Regions from separate parts of the Homo sapiens genome. Here region 1 is linked to region 2. The links come from fine-mapping of genetic effects on gene expression. A gene starts in region 2. The other region holds a variant in brackets. All regions are shown on one strand. Distances are from middle to middle.

Region 1 (8,728 bases), 25 kb before region 2:
AGTGGTAAAAAAGCAAGTAGAATAGTTTCTGAGTCTGTGTTGCAGCCTCTGACACGTGGCTCACCGCTGTCATTTGGGGGATGGAATGAACAGTCACTGTTCTATAGCATCCTCCTGTGCTCTTACCTAAGGAATCTAAATTGTCCTAGCCTTCCATTGCTATGCACTGAATGAGGACTACTCTCGTGTGTGTGTGTGTGTGTGTGTGTGTGTGTGTGTGTGTGTGTGTGTGTGTTGGATCTACTAACATGTTTAGCAAATGGCTCTGACAGGGTGGCCATGAGCAGATGAGACCAGCTCTTGCTTGGTTGGAAGCCACACTGCAGTTTGCAGTTTAGCCTTTGGTGTCTCAGTGGCTTCTTGCTTATTCCATGCTTTTTCTATCCCATCCTCTCTCTGTGCCCTCCTGCAATGGCAGCCTTGGCACAATGCCTGGGTGTCCTCATCCTTGCTTTACTCTGGAAAGTGTGGGGATGGAGAGGATGGTGCATTTCCAGTGCTTCCTTACCTGTCAATAACAATGGTGGCCACCTGGGTCCCAGCACTTGGCTGGTGGAGAGATTTTTTTCATTATGGAGCTAATAAAGGGTCCCTACGTTTTACATTGATTAATGAATTATCACCCAGACATGTGCAGATGAAATGTCAATATAAGAAAAATCAAGGTATTTGGGAAACATGGGCATAATCAGGTAGTTTTGCTAAAATTCCTCTTCCTTGGTCTACATAAAGAAGACATGGGTCTGTCATAGAATGGGGACATTAGACTGAAAACTGGGACAACCCCCTTCCTTATTTTATAGAGACTAGGAGTTAAGGGGCCTGCCTAAGATTGCAGTGATAAAGAACTGAACCCTAAATCAGCTCCCACTAATGAAACCCTGCTTTCCTTGTATCTTTTAAACTCAGTTCTGCATCCAACTTGAGAAGAAAAAAAGCTTCTTTCCATATCAAGTACCATATGAGTTCATTTAAACTGCACCTTGCAGAAATGCATTGCCAGAAAGCACCAGTAGCCTCCTATCTGCAAGCAGAGTAGTGCTCTGCTCTGGGGAGGGGTCATTGGAAACCATAATGCAGAGTGGGCCCCCTACTCCATTTCCCAGCAAAAGGCTCCAGCTGGAGGGATGGGTTGTGGGGCAACCTGGTTCCTGCTAACTGCCAGATTGAATGTGTGGGCTAGAATGCCTGCACATTTAGTTAAACTGGGCTCAGCATGCTTGTCCTCAAAATGTCCATCCTGGTCACAGCACACAAGATGGCTATTGGTCTGCTTTTACCCTACCCTGTACTATACATGAAAATTCCAGTTATTAACACACTCAAACTGGTGGAGCTTGTTCACCCTAGGAAGGGGATTGTATATATGGCAGGCTTCCCTGGTGCCGATGTAAAGGGCTACATTTGGGAACATTTGACTTCCTTGGGACTCTTAAGTGCATAATGATGGCATGAAGTAAAAGGGGCCTCAATGATGATAGGAAAATCAGTTCTTTTAAAATTTCTTCAAGAAAATCCAGGCTATCACATAGTCTTTCTGTGTGACTTATTAGGAGATAGGAAGAGCATTGGGAAACTTGCACAGCTAGCTATGCATCTACATTTTGGTTTGGGGTTAGTTATGAAATGTTCTTAATATGACGTGTTCAATAACTTCACATAAACTTCCTGTTCTCCAAAACCTCAAAGAGATAGAGTTAATGAGTTGTTGTTTTTTTTTAAATGGGGGTAGTTTTCTATCTGTCATGGGCTCTAGCATCTACTCCGCTACCCAATTCTGTCATCTCCAAGCTGAGTTTCCTCTTCTGAGGCAGAGGCTGGAGCAGTTCTTTTTCAGTTCTCATCCTCTCCATCCCAATCCAGTATATCAATCAACTCTAACTCGGAGACGTCTAGCTGGCAATGTTTCTAAAACTTTCACTGGATTTCTTTAGACATTGAAGCAAACATTTTTTTCTAAGAATTGCTTCTCAGATGATGATATCAAATGTATATGCTTTTGCAAGTTTGAAAAGTTCAAATTAACCACTTTTGACTAGGTAAGTCTTTCTAAAAACCATTTAAAGCTAACTGGGTCTTAGCATCCTCCTGTGTATGGAAGAGACAGGTGACCGCTCCAGGTTGGGTGCTCACAGAACCCTTTTCCTGACTCTCATGGAAGATGGTGGAAGGAAAATAGACTGTCTCATCAACCCTCCTGTGTCCTCTGAAGCAATCTCAGTTTTTATTAACCACCTCTTCTGTGTTTCTGGTAGCTATTTAACCTGTATTTAATCTGTACTTCCTATGCCAGCCTCAATTTTATTTGATTTTTACAATTATTCTCTTCTAACCAATGAAGTGTTTGTCAGTATGCCCCAAAGCTTGCTCTTTTGTGCTCCCTTTTGAATAACTTTCTATCCAGAAAAAGAGATTATTTGGGACTTGAGATTTGCAGTGATACCAACTTATAGCAATGATGTACTTTAAGGGAACTACCCAACTATGTTGTGATAGAAGAAAGAGAAACCTTCACTTTGGCATTTTTTTTTAATCACTGTTTATTTTTCTGTTTGCGGCCCAGGAAGCAGTGGGAGGTGGTGGCAGATATGCTTTGCATATGGATTGTTATGTTTTTATTTGGGCAAGTTTAATCATGGAAAACTCAAAAAGAAGGGGGGAAATGGTCAGTTTAAGCCAAAAGAAACTTTCTAAACAATGTATAGGTACACAGCAAAATTAAACAAATCCAACAATTTCTGAAGCTTAGTGTAATTGAGTGGTGGTTGTTATTCAATAAAATTATTCCCAAAAGTGTTTCTCCTAAGAGTGCAGTTCCCATGAGTCACTTCCTGAACCCATTGACCAAAGGTGGACAGAGACAATCCTGTAGACCTTGACATTCAGAAAGATGTGAGCTGCTTACTGATCATATATGCATACGTTTCTTTACAGCAGAGGAAACCATTGTCCACAAAACTGATGTTCTTTTGGGGTTTTATGTACAGACTTGTCCAATCATGTGTGTGGTTCCTGCGAGTTGCTGATGACTCCGCATTGAAGCTCTCTGAGTTCTTTGATTTTAAGTTGGGTTTATGGAATTTTTTCAAATGTTGGAAGGTGTGTGGTTCTTCCTGCCCTCCCTCCCCTTTTGGAAATATGAAAGCAAATGTTTAGAAGAATTCCTTTTGAAAAGCTGTGTCGTGTTCCCTGTGAAACTGAGCAGGTGTGTGTTGGCGCGCTAAGTGCCACATGCTTGTGTGTAGAGGAGGAGGTGGCCCTGCCGGCTCCGCGCTGCTGTGCCTGTGATCCCTACCTGCTCCCCGCTCCTGTTGCCAGCAGCACTCACTGCACTCCTTTGTCATATACTCTGCATCACTGTCATACTCACAACTTCGTGAATAAAGTTGTGTGCTTTATTCGTAGATGCCTCCATACCTGTGTTTCATTTCTCGTTCCCTGGCTCCCTTTGAAGGTCTATCTCATTTTAAAAAGCACCAACGCAACTTCCAATAATCAAAACAAAATCAGAATGAACCCAAGGCTGTGGG[A/G]ATACATTTTTATCATGCAGGTGGAAAAATGCAGCAAATAACAGCAGGATATTCCAGGACTGTGTGTCCAATAACCCAGACCATATTGACCAAGCTGTCCAAAGGAAAGAAATGTTTAGTAGAGCCATTACACTGTGCTGTGTCATAGGTGTTTGATTTGGTTTGTGACACAGCAGGGATAGTCCCATCATTTCGACAAAGCTGGGGATTTGAGGAGGTTTGAAGCTTCTGAGCCACTATGAGTGTGGGCCACTTTTTAGTAAGAAGCTAGAATGCAGTAGGAGAAAAGCATCCTTCCAATTTTGGGCATCCCCTGCATGATCAAACTTTACATGAAGAAATTGTAGATGTTAACTTCCTTGTTATCATCACTGCCAAGATTTTAGGCTTGCCAGAAAGTACAAGGATCTATGTCCAAGATGGCCCACTCCAACGATAGCCTTCCTTCTGCTCTGTGTCTGCTGAGACTACCCAAGACCCAGTCACACTGGCATTCACATGACCCTCCCCTGGAAGCGGGATGCAGGTTGTTTTCAAGACAGTTGGCATCTTTAGTTCACCACCATGGAAAACAGGCCGGGAGACCTCAGCTCAAGGTCTGTGTTCTGCTCATCTCTGCCTCCACCCGTGGGAAAGCATCCCTGCTGTGGTCCATAATTACCATAGCTAGGGGTCATCTCCAGTCCTTATGAACTCTCTGTGGGATTTGGCTCTGGTGGCCACCTCTCCAATGGAAGTTGACCCGTGCCTCACTTCAGTTGCTAGACTTTAGTCAGCGAATCTCACACTGCCTTTGCTGGGAGTGGAAGGATCTCGCCTCACCCACTGCTCAGCTGCCTCTCCCCCAGTACCCTGCCTTCAGATCTTGCCAAACCACTGCAAGTTCCCAGGACATACCATGCTTGCTCCCTCCCAGGCAGCTTTATCAAAGGTATTTCTTCTTTACGATGCTCAACTCTTCAAGGAGGTGGTGGAGCAGAGAGGACCTGGCCCCAGGGAAAGGAAGTAATGATCAATGTTGACTCTTTAAAAACAGCTACCCATCAGCTCTTTGGAGTTACCCATGTGAATTTCCCATGGGCTCCATTTGTTCCAAATTAAAGACAAGTCCAAGTTCACACCCTCTCTATGAGCCTGTCTTAATGGGCCCAGCCCAATCTGCATGTAATTCTTTGCATGCCTCTAGTTGAACCTCAAGGTCGGTACTTAGCAAGTGTTGCCTCGAACTGCTAGCTGCGTGGGTTTCTGCTCTTCAGTTGAACTGTAGTGAGATCTCTGTGCTGAGCGCCAGGCACCCTAGCTTGGCATAACTATATTGCTCGTGAGAGCCTTTCAAAGTAGACAATTGTAGCTCCACTATACAGGTAGGAAACCAAAGCTCAGAGTCTAATCAAACATGCCCAATCACTCAGCCAGTGAGCAGCAGAGCTAGAATTCTCCAGGTCTGCCCTTTTCAGATCCCATGCTGTTATCCTCCACATCCCATTCCCTGTGACTTTCTTAGGGCAAGGACTGTGTCCCACATTCTGAATCTCCCAGGGCACACTGCACAGAATGGGTTCTTAGTGTGAGACCGGCCAGCGCCCTTCAGTGTGGCCATGAGCCCCAACACTACCACCAAGGCGCATTTATGAACAGTTTGGGGGTTACTCACTGTCTGTGTGTCTTGGAGCCCGTTTAGCCTCTCTTCAGCCTCAATTTGTTCATCTGCAGAATGGACAAGATAATAATATCCATCAAAAGACTGTTGCCAAATTATAGCACGTGAGCACTTAGGTGGTTGAATAAGGACTAGTATTATTTTAAATAATCATTTGAGAATGAATTAGTTTTCACTCTGGGCTTTTTACCCCTCCCTCTAGTCATTTTGTTTGTGTTCACAGGGCCTTCCTCATGGATTCTCCTTCTAGTCTTTATATAAATACTCCAGGATTAAAATAATCCCACGACCTCTTTTACATACTTCAACAACAGCACTCTCTCCACCCAAGCATAGTCTAAGATAGAGATCCCCTGAAGATGTGCTAATTAGTAGTAATAATAACCAGAAGTATTACTCAGCAGCCGAGTGCAGGGTATAGCATCAGGCTGCCTGGGTTCGAGTTTCAGCTCCACCAATAGCTATCTGTATAACTAACAAATTGTTTAACTTCTCTAAGCCTCAATTTCCATGTCCATAAAAGAGGAATAATAATGATACCTACCACAAAAGGTTATTATGAGAATTCCTGCAGGACAAGAGCCTGCATGATACTAAACGAGCACTTAAAATGGCTTTTATTCAGGCCCGGCGCGGTGGCTCATGCCTGTAATCCTAGCACTTTGGGAGGCTGAGGCGGGCGGATCACAAGGTCAGGAGATCGAGACCATCCTGGCTAACATGGTGAAAACCTGTCTCTACTCAAAATACAAAAAATTAGCCAGGTGTGGTGGCGGGCGCCTGTAGTCCCAGCTACTCAGGCAGGAGAATTGCGTGAACCCGGGAGGCGGAGCTTGCAGTGAGCTGAGATCACACCACTGCACCCCAGCCTGGTGACAGAGCAAGACTCCGTCTCAAAAAAAAAAAAAAAAAAAAAGGATTTTATTCATGAAGTAGCTGCCATGTAATAAGTACTGTTTGCCCAGCCCCGAACTAAACAATTTCTGTGGTTTCTTTCATATACTTCCTTAGGTTCCTTCCATTTTAGTTAAGGAAACAGACCCAGAGAGACTGTCTCTGAGTAGTGGGGCTGAGTAGGCTGAGGTGGGTGGATCATCACGAGGTCAGGAAATCGCTACCATCCTGGCTAACATGGTGAAACCCCGACTCTACTCAAAATACAAAAAATTAGCCAGGTGTGGTGATGGGCGACTGTAGTCCCAGCTACTCGGGAGGCTGAGGCAGTCCTAAACACTGCCTATGGGCAAGTGTCATGCCGAGAGGGGCACAGGTGCCCCCAAAGCACTGTGGCCACCCAGCATGGCAGACTCCTCAAACTGGAAGCGTTCAGAGGTGCCAGGTTGGGACTCAGCTGCTCCAGAGGGTTTTCCTGGGTTGGGAGGATTGTCCTAGCCTACTCCGGCGGTGCTTAGAAACACTCCCTGTGGAAGAGCTGAGACTCATTCTCATGAAAGATGGTGTTTGTTCCAGAAAGATCTTTTCAATGGTATGACTCACTTCAAAGCAACCAAAGGCTGTAAAAGTTGAGCTGCTGGTCCTGAGAGTATTGAGGGAGAAAGCCACCAATCCTCCCCAGCCCCTCTTGCCCGTTGCTGGAAGAAGGCTACTCTTCCCCACAGGTCATTGCCAGGGTGTGTCTGTCAGGCCCACCCTGCTGGAGGTGGCCCACTGTGGGCCGGAAAGCACTGGGAAGGGCGGGGACTTGGAGCTGTCAGCGTTTGAGAAAGCCAGGGTGGTTGGGAGAATAGCACCCAAAACTTCAGGGAATCTCGACCCCAGCCCTAAGAACTCACTTCCGCACCTTCTTCCCCACAGGAGACCAGGACTCTGAACAAACACTTCCCTTCTACTCTGGCAGAGCTCAGGGATAGGCTGTAGCGAGTCGGGTCTGCAGAAGAGGGGGTAATAGGACCACATTTATTTTACTTTCCAATCTCCACTGGATAAAACTTGCTCTCCAGGGCCTGCTATTGTGCTGAGCACAATCACAGCTCCTGGAGAGGTTTTTCTGTATTTATTTGTGCTGTCCCCTGCTGCTCACTCTTAACTCAGCCCTTCCCATCAGATAAAAAGAAAAAAGTTGGCTTAGGAAACCTCCCCTTCAGAGCAGAGGCTGTTCCTGCTTTGCCCCTAGCATATGTTAGCCATAGGCCCTCCCAGAGTATCCCGAAGGGGCTGGAGGCAGGGCAGAGCCTCAGGGGTTTCTAGCCCCAGATCTAGCCGGGTTGAGACCCCCAGGTGTCTGAGTCCAGGCACTAAGAAGAGAGGGGTCTGATGGCAGCAGCAGCGAACATTCTTTGCAGGCCTCCAAGTGCCAGGTGCTGGGCTAAATACTCTACGTAGATTATTTTGTTTAATCTGAGAAGGGCAAACCCAAGGCTGGGCGAGCTCCACTGACAAGTGGGTAGGATTCTAGCCCCCTCCCATCAAGTCCAAATGCCACCTTCCTCCTAAGGCAATTACAGCTCTCTGGGGTCTCCACAAGGCCTTCTAAGGATGTCAAAAGGATTGCCTACAAAGACAAATACCAGGCTTTCTCAGCAAGGTGGAGCCTGGCCATGAATAACATTTTGTTCTAAGCTGGACGGATGCTGGCACAGAAAGAATAGGTTCTTTCGTTCCTGCTATTGTCTTAAAACATATGCTTCTTAATGAAAAGTTAGAAAATGTTGATGCCAGTTACATTCCCATCAGATAAGAGCAAGGGTCAGCTGGCTTCTCCTGTTGAAAAAAACAATTATTACGCCCCTCCTTTACATAAAAACAAGGTGCTTCATACAACTCAAGAGTAAATTGCTCGGATTTATTAACCATTTTTTCAATCAAATGGCTTCCACTTGCACAGACGTGATCTATGATCCTCACGAGCCACCTGGGTGAATGTTGCTCCCTTCGATACACAGATGAGAGCCTGCCTGGCTTGTCCAAGCTCAAAGGGAGACTTGGGGAAGGAGCTAAGATCTGGACCCAAGTCTAACCCCAAAGCTCAGGCTTCAGTCCACAAAGAGGCTTTGATTGGGTAGATCTGGGTTAGGAGCTGGGAAGTTGAATCTTACAACAAAATATAAAAGCCTCCAGATAATTCTGATGATCAACCAAGTTTGGGAACCCTTCCCCACATCCCAGGATCTCAGGTCAGTGGCAGAGCTGGTCTGTGATGAACCAAGCATCCCTTGCCAGGATTTGTTATCACTGTCGCCCTAATTCACAAGACCACAGTCAGACAAGGCCTGGGAAACCTGCCCTCGCTGAGACCTCCATGGGAAATCACCCACATCTTCCTTCAGCTCGGCAAGGCTCGGAATGCCCCCGGGACATCCCACTGCAGTCTGCTCAAGTGTCACCTTATTTGCAAGGAGATTATCTCTTGTAAAATACAAAAGTATGAGATGAGAGAATCAGTTAGGTGCACAGTTGCTTAAAGGAAAAGCAATCCACCAGTATCCTATTCTCCCTTTCTCCCCTCACAATCTTGAGAAACCTCTGAACATTGAAAAAAATGGCCTAGAAATGTTATTATTGTACCAACTTATTTCCT
Region 2 (8,904 bases):
CTGATTCCTGAGGCCAAAAACCCAATGAATTTGAATCGGAATGTGAATGAACCCTGTGTGGACGTTGCAAAGCCACAAGGGGTTAAATTGCACCCAGGTTTTGGAGAGGAGGAGACAGTGCTGAGCTTCCAGAGGCCCAAGATTCCTATTGATGGTTTTAAGTGGTGGGGTTTTTTATTTTTTTCCCTTCAGTTTTGTTCTTGGAAAAGGCGGTGAATTCCCATTTTAAATTCACTCTGCATACATTTCTGATTGATTTTTGTTTTGTCTAGAGCCTCTGGGATTTGCCAAGTCTCCATCAATAAACTAGAGAGGATTTAGGGAAGAGGTAATTAAAGGGGCTGGGGCAAGAGAGGAAAGGGGGAGAGAGGACAGGCAAAATGGAGATATCGAGCTGTCCCCAGCCTGCAGGGAGGGTGCTGCGGTTACAGGAAGTGTTCAGGGAGATGGCTATCAAAGGGTTTGCCGGGGTGAAACTGTCCAGTTGGAGCCCTTCGAAAGCCTGAACTAAGGGCCATGGTAAAGTCCAGGAAATTGGAGTCAGGAAACTTCATTTTTGAGTCCTAGTTTTGAAAGAGATTCCTTTGAGACTTTGGGTGAGTCACCTAACTTCTTTGCTTCCTCATTTGTGAAACAGAGATAGCTCAATTTGCTCCTAGCCACCCTGGTGGGAGAGTCAACTCAAGCAAAACGGCTGCTGAGTGGGACCTTGTAACCTGGCCCTGCTGACCCCAATTGACAGCCAGGGCTGGGAACAGAGACTTGAGGCTTCCTTCAAAAGGAAGAGTTACACCATCAGATTCGCCCTGAGAATTTGAAAGGAAACCAGGACCCATTGCTAATAGTCTCTTGACACCGGTAGAATAGAGGGTGGATGCCAGGCCGGGCCATTTGCAATATGAGGAAAGGAAGGGAAGGAGAAAGAGAAGGCAAAAAGGCAAGACACCATCCGTCCTGCCCCACTTTCCAGTTCCAGCTTGCATGGAGGCCCGCGGAACGCTGTTCCCTCTCCTCTTATCCATGAGACGTCAGCATTCTTGCCACAGCCTCTGACTTTTCTATTTCTTGAGCCCTCCTGAGCAGGCCCACGTGGAACAGGGTGCTGATGTAAGGGGCTGAGCTCCAGGGCTCAGACCCAGTGTTCTAACTCCCCTGGGAGCACCATGGGCCTTTCACTTTCTCCCTTCAACTCCCCAACCTGCAGCCACTTCTGAGTGTGACTCTTTTCCTGCTCATTGTCTCCATCCCCACCCCCAAAGCAGCCCAGGAGAGCAGGACTTGTTTGCCCTGCTCATGCTCTGCAGTTCCTGGAGACACCTGGCACACAGCAGGCCCCACATCTGAGGGCTGCATGACGCTGTTCACCTAACCACTCAAATTGCTGGAAACTGCAGAGTCGGCCTCAGCTCTTCTCCTCCCTCACACTCTGCTCAGGCACAACTTCCAGAAGGTTGCTGCCATCAGTCCTCTCTTCCCCATTGGCTTTTCCACCACCCCATAGCTTCTCACCTGGGGGGTACAACTGCCTCCTGTGCTCCCCCTGCTCTCAGCCCCTGGGGGATCCCCGGGGCACCAACACTCTTCAGTGCTGTCTAATCACCTCAGCTCAGCACTCTAGGCCCTGGAACAGTGCTGCACCCACCTTTCCAGCCTCACTTGCTTCATTCCTGGCTTCTCCCTTTCTGCTACAGCAACAGAGCTGTTTGACCCTGAAAAGGCTCATCTCCCTGCCTCTGTTCCCACTGTCCTTTCTGCCTGGAAAGCTGCACTCACTGTACCTTTCCTGTCACCTCACTAACTCGAACTCATCCCACTCAGCCAGCTCGTCGCACTCTTCAAATTCATGGAACTCAGTGCAGCCGTTGCTGCTTCAGTGTCCTCTTGTGTGTTCCCAGAATCCCTCGTGTTTCTGTCTTATCAGAGCATCTACCTCACTGTGCTGTGTTGTTCACTGGTCTGTGTGCCCCATGAGATGGTAACAAACAGCCTGGCACTTCCTATGAGTGCCAAGAAGTTTTGTGAATATTTGGGGCTGGCAGAGTGACTCACACATATAATCCAAGCGCTATGGGAGGCCGAGGTGGAAGGATCACTTGAGCCTAGGAGTTGGAGGCCCCATCTTTATAAATAATAAATTAACAACAACAACAACAAAACTAGGCGAGTGTCATGGTATGTGCCTGTAGTCCTAGCTACCTGGGAGGCTGAGGCGGGAGGATTACTGAAGCCCAGGAGGTTTTTTTTTATTGTTGTTGGTTTGTTTGTAAACATTTTATTTCATTTTAATTTTTGATTTTATTTATTTATTTATTTTTGAGACAGGCTTGCTCTGTTGCTCAGGCTAGAGTGCAGTGGTGTGATCTCAGCTCACTGTAACCTCCAGTTCCTGGGTTCAAGCAATTCTCATGCCTCAGCCTCCCAGGTAGCTGGGATTACAGGTGTGCACCACCATGCCCGGCTAATTTTTGTATTTTTAGTAGAGACTGGGTTTCACCACGTTGGCCAGGCTGTCCCGAACTCCTGACCTCAGGTGATCTGCCCGCCTCGGCCTCCCAAAGTGCTGGGAAATACAGGCATGAGCCACCACGCCTGGCCTAAATATTTTATTTCATTTAACACAATACATTCCAGTTTTACCTTAAATATATTTTTAAAAATATTTAATTTTCTGATTATTCTTCTTTTTCTTTTTAAACTTTTATTTTAGATTCAGGGCAAATGTGCAAATTGTTATATAGGTAAATTGTGTGTCATAGGGGTTTGGTGTGGAGATTATTTAATCACACAGGTAGTAAGCATAGTGCTCAATAGGTAATTTTTCAATCCCTACTCTCCTCTCACCCTCCACCCTCAAGTAGGCTGTGGTGTCTGTTGTTCCCTTTTGTGTGTCCATGTGTACTCAGTATTTAGATCCCACTTAAAAGTGAGAACATGTGGTATTTGGTTATCCGTTCTTGCATTAGTTTGCTTATGAAAATGACCCCCAGCTCCATTCTTCCTTGCTGCAAAGGACATGGTCTTGTTCTTTTTTATGGCTGCATAGTATTCCATGGTATATATGCACCATATTTTGTTTATCCAGTCTACTGTTGATGACCATTTAGGTTGATTCCATATCTCTGCTATTATGAGTAGTGCTGCAATAAACATACATGTGCATATGTCTTTATGGTAGAACCATTTATATTCCTTTGGGTATATATCCAATAATGGGATTTCTGGGTTGAATGGTAGTTCTGTTTTAAGTTCTTTAAGAAATCACCAAACTACTTTTCACAATAGTTGAACTAATTTACATTTCCACCAGCAGTGTATAAGCATTCCATTTTCTCTGCAACCTCACCAGCATCTGTTATTTTTTGACTTTTTAATAATAGCCATTCTGACGGTATGGTATCTCATTGCAGTTTTGATTTGCATTTCTGTAATGATCAGTGTGAAGCCCACGAGTTTGAGGCTGCAGTGAACCAAGATTGTGCCACTGCACTCCAACCTAGGCAACAAACCAAGACCTTGTCTCTAAAAAAATAAAAATTAAAATACACATTTGGAAGCAGACAGATCCGAGTTTAACGCCTGCTCCGCTCTTTTCTAGCTGTGTGACTTTGAGCAAATTGCTTAACCTCTTTTCTTTTTTTTGAGACGTAGTCTCACACTGTCACCCAGGCTGGAGTGCAGTGCGCAATCTCAGCTCACTGCAACCTCCATCTCCCAAGTTCAAACGATTCTCCTGCCTCAGCCTCCCAAGTAGCTGAGTTTACAGGCCCCTGCCACCAAGCCCAGCTATTTTTTTTTTTTTTTAGTAGAGATGGAGTTTCACCATGTTGGCCAGGCTCGTCTCGAACTCCTGACTTCGTGATCCGCCCGCCTCAGCCTCCCAAAGTGCTGAGATTACAGGCGTGAGCCACCGCGCCCAGCCGTAGCTTCTTCACCTCTATGAAAGAGATCATAATAATACCCATGTCACAGGGATATCGGGGAAACTAAAGGCAGTGATGTACAGCCCTTAGCGCCGTGCCTGGCTTGTGGGGAGGGCTCCATCCACATTAGGTGCTAGTATAACTAAGAAAAATATTTCTACATGCTGTTGGGAGGGGTTGGGGGAGGTCTCCAAACATCACAACTAAATCTGCGATTCCAAGGAAGAATTAAGAAGTCTTTTAGAAAACCACCACTGCCAAATCTTCCTTAATTGTTCCTTCAAGGAAGCTGGGGAACTTAGGTAACCAACCAGGCACCCAGCACAAACCGTGACTGAGATTTTAAAGTGAAAACTGAAAAAGTTTAAAAGAACACATAGATCTCTGGGGGGAGCACGGAGAAGACTAGGTCGCATTAAGGGCCTGGAAGGACCGGTGGCAAAAGGCAAAGGATGGAAGTGTGGCACTTCTGGATGGAGGCAGTGCAGGGTGGAGATTCAGAGCCATGGCCGAGCTTCCTTATGGAACCGGCGCCACCCCTCCAAGGCGGTCAGGTTTACTGGGCGCCCCGGAAACGGCACTCCCTGACTTGTGGCGTTGGCCCTGGAAATTCAGGTAGAAAGCAGCAAGCAGATGTTTTCACACACCCTGAAGTGTGCGCGATTGGCAGCGGCTGCCCAGAGAGGTTCCAAGAGAGTGGGAGCAATCCCCAAAGAACCCGGAGCAGGTTTGGTTGCCCGCCCCGCTGCCCTCCTCGCCCCTCCAGGAAGGCCTAGGGCAAAAGCGCGCTGGCTCGGGAGCCAAGCGCGAGGAGCTCTAAGCCAGTCTCAACCTCCTAGCTTGGACCTCGGTCTCCTCCTCCAGGCATTGGGTTTGCAGCGGGCAGGGGTGTGGGAACAATCTTGGAGGCCCACCCAAGCCCGGCCTCCCGGAGCCTCCCCCAGAGTTTGGGAACGTCCCAGTCTCGTTCCCTCTCGACGCCCCCGGAGTCAAGACGTGAAGGGAGTGCCAAGGCGGCCGGGGGCGGCGAGCGGGGCCGCGGGCGCGCACCGACTCAAGAGCCGACTGTCAGCCTCGGCGGGCCGGAGTTCTCCGGCGCTGGGACAGGGGCGCTGGGACAGGGGCGCTGGGGGCGAGCCCTGGCGGGGGCCAGGTCCGAGGACCCTGGGCGCGGCGGCCCCGCCAGGAGGTCCGGCCGCGAGCGTGACCTCACGGGGAGGGGCCAGCGCGGCGGCCTGGGCGCTGAGCCGAGCGCCGGGAGAGCAGCGCAGAAGCCGAGCCGCGAGGAGCGCACTCCGTGGCCCCGATGGAGCGGTACAAAGGTGAGGGCGCGGGTTCCTCGCGCGGCGCACACCCACTCCCTTTCGCCCAGCGACGCGGAGGGCAGGGCTAGGACTCGTCTTGCCAGGACTCGGGATAAGCAGAGCCCACTGCCCCCACCCAGCCCGGACCTGGGCCTAAGAGGGGGCGACAGCGGCGCCGCGGACTGGGCGGGTGGGCTCCTAGGTGGCTGCTGCGGCCCGAGCCCTTTGATCCTCCCGGGCGCGGAAGGAGGGGGTCGTCAGTGGGGGGCGTGGCGGGGCTTCTCACCTGTTGCAGGAGAGAGGGTGAGCCCGGCACCCCACTCCACCCTCAGTCCCGCCGCACAGGAAAGATGCCTGGGGCCGAGGAAGCCCCGAAGAAGGTGGGAACCGTGCTGAGCTGCTGGGGGCAAAGGGTCGGGCTGTTGAGTCCTTTCTCCCGGGCGCCCGCCGGGCTAGGGGCTTCCTGCTCCCGGCAAAGCGCTTGGGCAGTGGAGTGGGCGCGCAGACCCTCCCCGGGCTAGGTGGGGCCTCCCCAAACGTCCTGCCGTTCGGGTCATCGTTTCTCTCCAAGCCCTTCTTTGCTCCCCCACACCAAGAAAGGAGGGATGCGAGGGTCGGGGGCCGAATGGAGTGCCCGGCAGGTGGAGCTCCTGGAGGCGTCCGGACCCGAGGGCTTAGCTCAGTGCGCAGCTGGGCGAGCTTTGGGTTTGGCGGGGGCCAGGATCTCCGCCAAACCCCGGTGGGCGGGCCGTCCCGGGTGCGCCGGACGCCCAGCTTAGCACCCACACTCGGAGCCTCGGAGCTGGTCTACAAGTCTCGATTGCGGTTCTTTTGAAAAGGGAGTACAGGGAGTTGCCCCTTAAGAGGAACCCTGCGGGCGCTCCCCCCTCCCCCATCCTCCTGCAGACCCCTTCCCTTTGGAAAAGCCTCTTGCCTTCTCTTTTGCTGGACCGGTCTCCGCCAAACCTGCGGGAGGAAATGCTGCTTCTATATTTGTTTTCCCCTGGGAGAGAGTAATAAAAAGAGAACGCTCAGATTCCCAGGAATCTCACTCCCGGAGGGCTCTGATCCCTGAAACTGACATAAAGGGACCTGTTGGGACCGGCTTCCCTAAAGTAGTCTTGTCTTTCACTTTCCCATTGCTTTTTCTCATCTGGGTAGCCTGGTTACTGGTGAAGGCAAAAGATCCAAGTCCCAGACAGAGCTTCATATATTCAGGAAGGGTCTTTGCCGACAGCAGGGAGCCGGCGTGGGGGACAGGGTTAAAGGAGTTGGCCACCTTTGATTTCTTTCTGTGAACCCTCCCTGGAGCTTCTCTCGCATTTCTAACCCGGTGGTTTTCTTCTTCTCAAATTCTACTGGGATCACGTCAGTTTTGTGCTTGAATGACTGAATGCGCGCTTATGCTGTCTCAGACACTTGAGGAAGCCACAGTCCTGCTCCTTGTAACATGGCCGTTTGCACTCCCTCCCCTACTGGGGCCCCTCCGCCCTTCGGGAGGGACCCTCTCTGGGAATTCAGGCCTTGAGTTGAGCCTGACAGGAAGTGTTGGCCTCTGGGGTGCCTTCCAGCTCCCTGACTTGCAAAGCTGGGGTGTGTGTATGGGGGTGGGGGTGGTGTTAGTTGTAGGTTGCAAGCTACTTTCTCAAATCAGCATATTAATCTCTCTAAATCAGGGCAAATCACATTTGGGGTCTTTCAAAATGTCCCGTTATTCTCAGAAGGCTTTTGTATTAATAACTTTTGACTTGGCCCTTGACCTGATAAAAGTCTTCTTAGTTATCTTTCTCTCTCAGGAGCTTAAAATCCTCCCACCCTCGAAGAGGATCAGTTTTTGCCAACTGAAGGGAACTTCGTTTCCAGGTCAGGGTGCTTATGTTTTTGGTAACACATGTATCTGCCTGATCATTTTGCAGTAAACCAGACACAGAGTGATAAGTGGGTAAACCTGAGAATTATCTAGGTTTCAGAGGCTAATCCAACTCAAATTCCAGTGTTTGACTCATGAGAAAAATCTTTATTTTGTCTCGCTGGTGTCATGCTGCTAATAGGTTTACTACACCTTTCACTGAGGAATTTGGGGATCCCCTAGCCCCAGGATATAGAATTCCCCATTCTCCTGAGAGGCAGATAAGTTGTGCTTTGAACACCCTTTAAATGGAAAAGTTCCTCTATGCAAAATGCAAAATGAAGCCCATCTCTGATTAACCAGTGTGACTGACTAGAATCGGTAGTCTCTTCTTGCTTTTCAGAGACTGGGGCCATCTTCTTAAAGTTGAGATTGAATAGTTATTGGAATAACTAGGAATAGTGGTTTAAACAACAAAGTTAAACGGAAAAAGCAGGTTTATTTAGTTGGGCTCCTGGAGCCTAAGTAAAAACTGTAAAGAAAAATTCTTATTGTGTGTGACACTTTTTAAATGTGTTATTTAAATGCCTCTTCATTCTGTTTCTGTACTTCCAATTTTGAGCTCTCCCTCTCTCAGGTAGGTGGAAATGCCTCATGGCTGTCTTCAGAGTCTCAAAATGTTTTCTCTAATTTGCAAATCTTATAAAGCAGTTCATGTAGGAGAAATTGTCTTTCCATGTTCCTTAGCCTGCTTGTTATATATATTGTACATCCTCCAAAAATAGCCTATCATTTTTGGGCTCTGAGTGGATTTTCCATTGTCTTGTAGGATGTAAAGTGAGGTCTGGAGATGATGGGTGGTTGGAATATCACCCATGTGACATGCCTGTTGCAGAGACACTTCCAGACTTTCTTCCCAGTCCCTTCCAAGATTTCTGCTAGATAGCCATGACTCACCCAAGCAAAAATAAGGGATCGGGGAGTATGTGGGAGTCCCTTCCTAGAGAGATGGCACTTTTATGAGAGTTGCCATAAATAGCGATGGTAAAATGGCTATGTCTTGTATGTGAATCTCTTTGGCGTTGTATAAGCAGTAAGGCTCTCGCAAATGTCAGGATGTGGGGCCAAATCCTACAGGGTGCTTTGAGAAGGTTCCCATCCTTATGTGTTTACATATTTATGACTCTCATAAGAGCATCCTTTTATCGCTGTGCATGAGCCCATTGGCTGAACTCACCCAGTGTGGTCACGCATTCTGGTTCTGACTGCTCTCCCAGCTGGTGAGTGGGTCTGGGCCAAATGTGACTGACCTACTATCTGTGGATTGTGCTTGGAACATCCATGCCGAAGCTTCCTGAAATTGCATCATACTTGGATACAGATGGGCCTGGTTGAGATATTCAGCTTCAATTTAGATCACAGTAATTGGTTGAAAGTGTTATTATTCTTTTTCTGCGGTTCTTTTGTTTCTGAATTTGATCATCCAGTCCCCCCGCTTAGCTCTAGGGCATTGGAGGCAGATATGAACTGCAAAGAGTCAATCCAGTAAAATACTACTTCAAAGTTTATATGGGAATCCTGAGATCTGTGGTCAGGGAAGGTCTGGAAAAGAAAAGCAAATTAAAAGAGATGGGCATGCTACCTTCAGGAATCATCTGTATTTGTTATTTTTCAATGCCTACGAACTCAGGTTTTTTTGTGTTGAAGTTCTATCTAAGGCAGTAGTTCTAAACCTTTGCTGTGCATGGAATCATCTGTGGAGCTTTCAAAAATATGGATGTAAAGGCCCCACCCAAGACATTCTGATTTAATTGGTCTAGGGTACAGCTTG

The links. PIP is the estimated chance that this variant, and not a neighbour inherited with it, causes the effect.
Region 1: its variant is fine-mapped to the expression of AFAP1L2 in pancreas (GTEx, PIP 0.99).

The regions. Positions count from the first base shown.
Region 1 is chr10:114,425,788-114,434,515 of GRCh38, reverse strand. It overlaps ABLIM1 (actin binding LIM protein 1), which reads left to right. Exons shown (of 23, transcript NM_002313.7): 23 at 1-3,404. Among named protein-coding and RNA genes, the nearest start is that of AFAP1L2, 26 kb to the right of the region's middle. The variant A/G (reference allele first, on the strand shown) is at 3,531.
Region 2 is chr10:114,400,778-114,409,681 of GRCh38, reverse strand. It overlaps AFAP1L2 (actin filament associated protein 1 like 2), which reads left to right and starts at 5,180. Exons shown (of 19, transcript NM_001001936.3): 1 at 5,180-5,242. The coding sequence starts at 5,227. RefSeq lists an enhancer at 4,645-5,145 and silencers at 5,099-5,178, 5,976-6,025.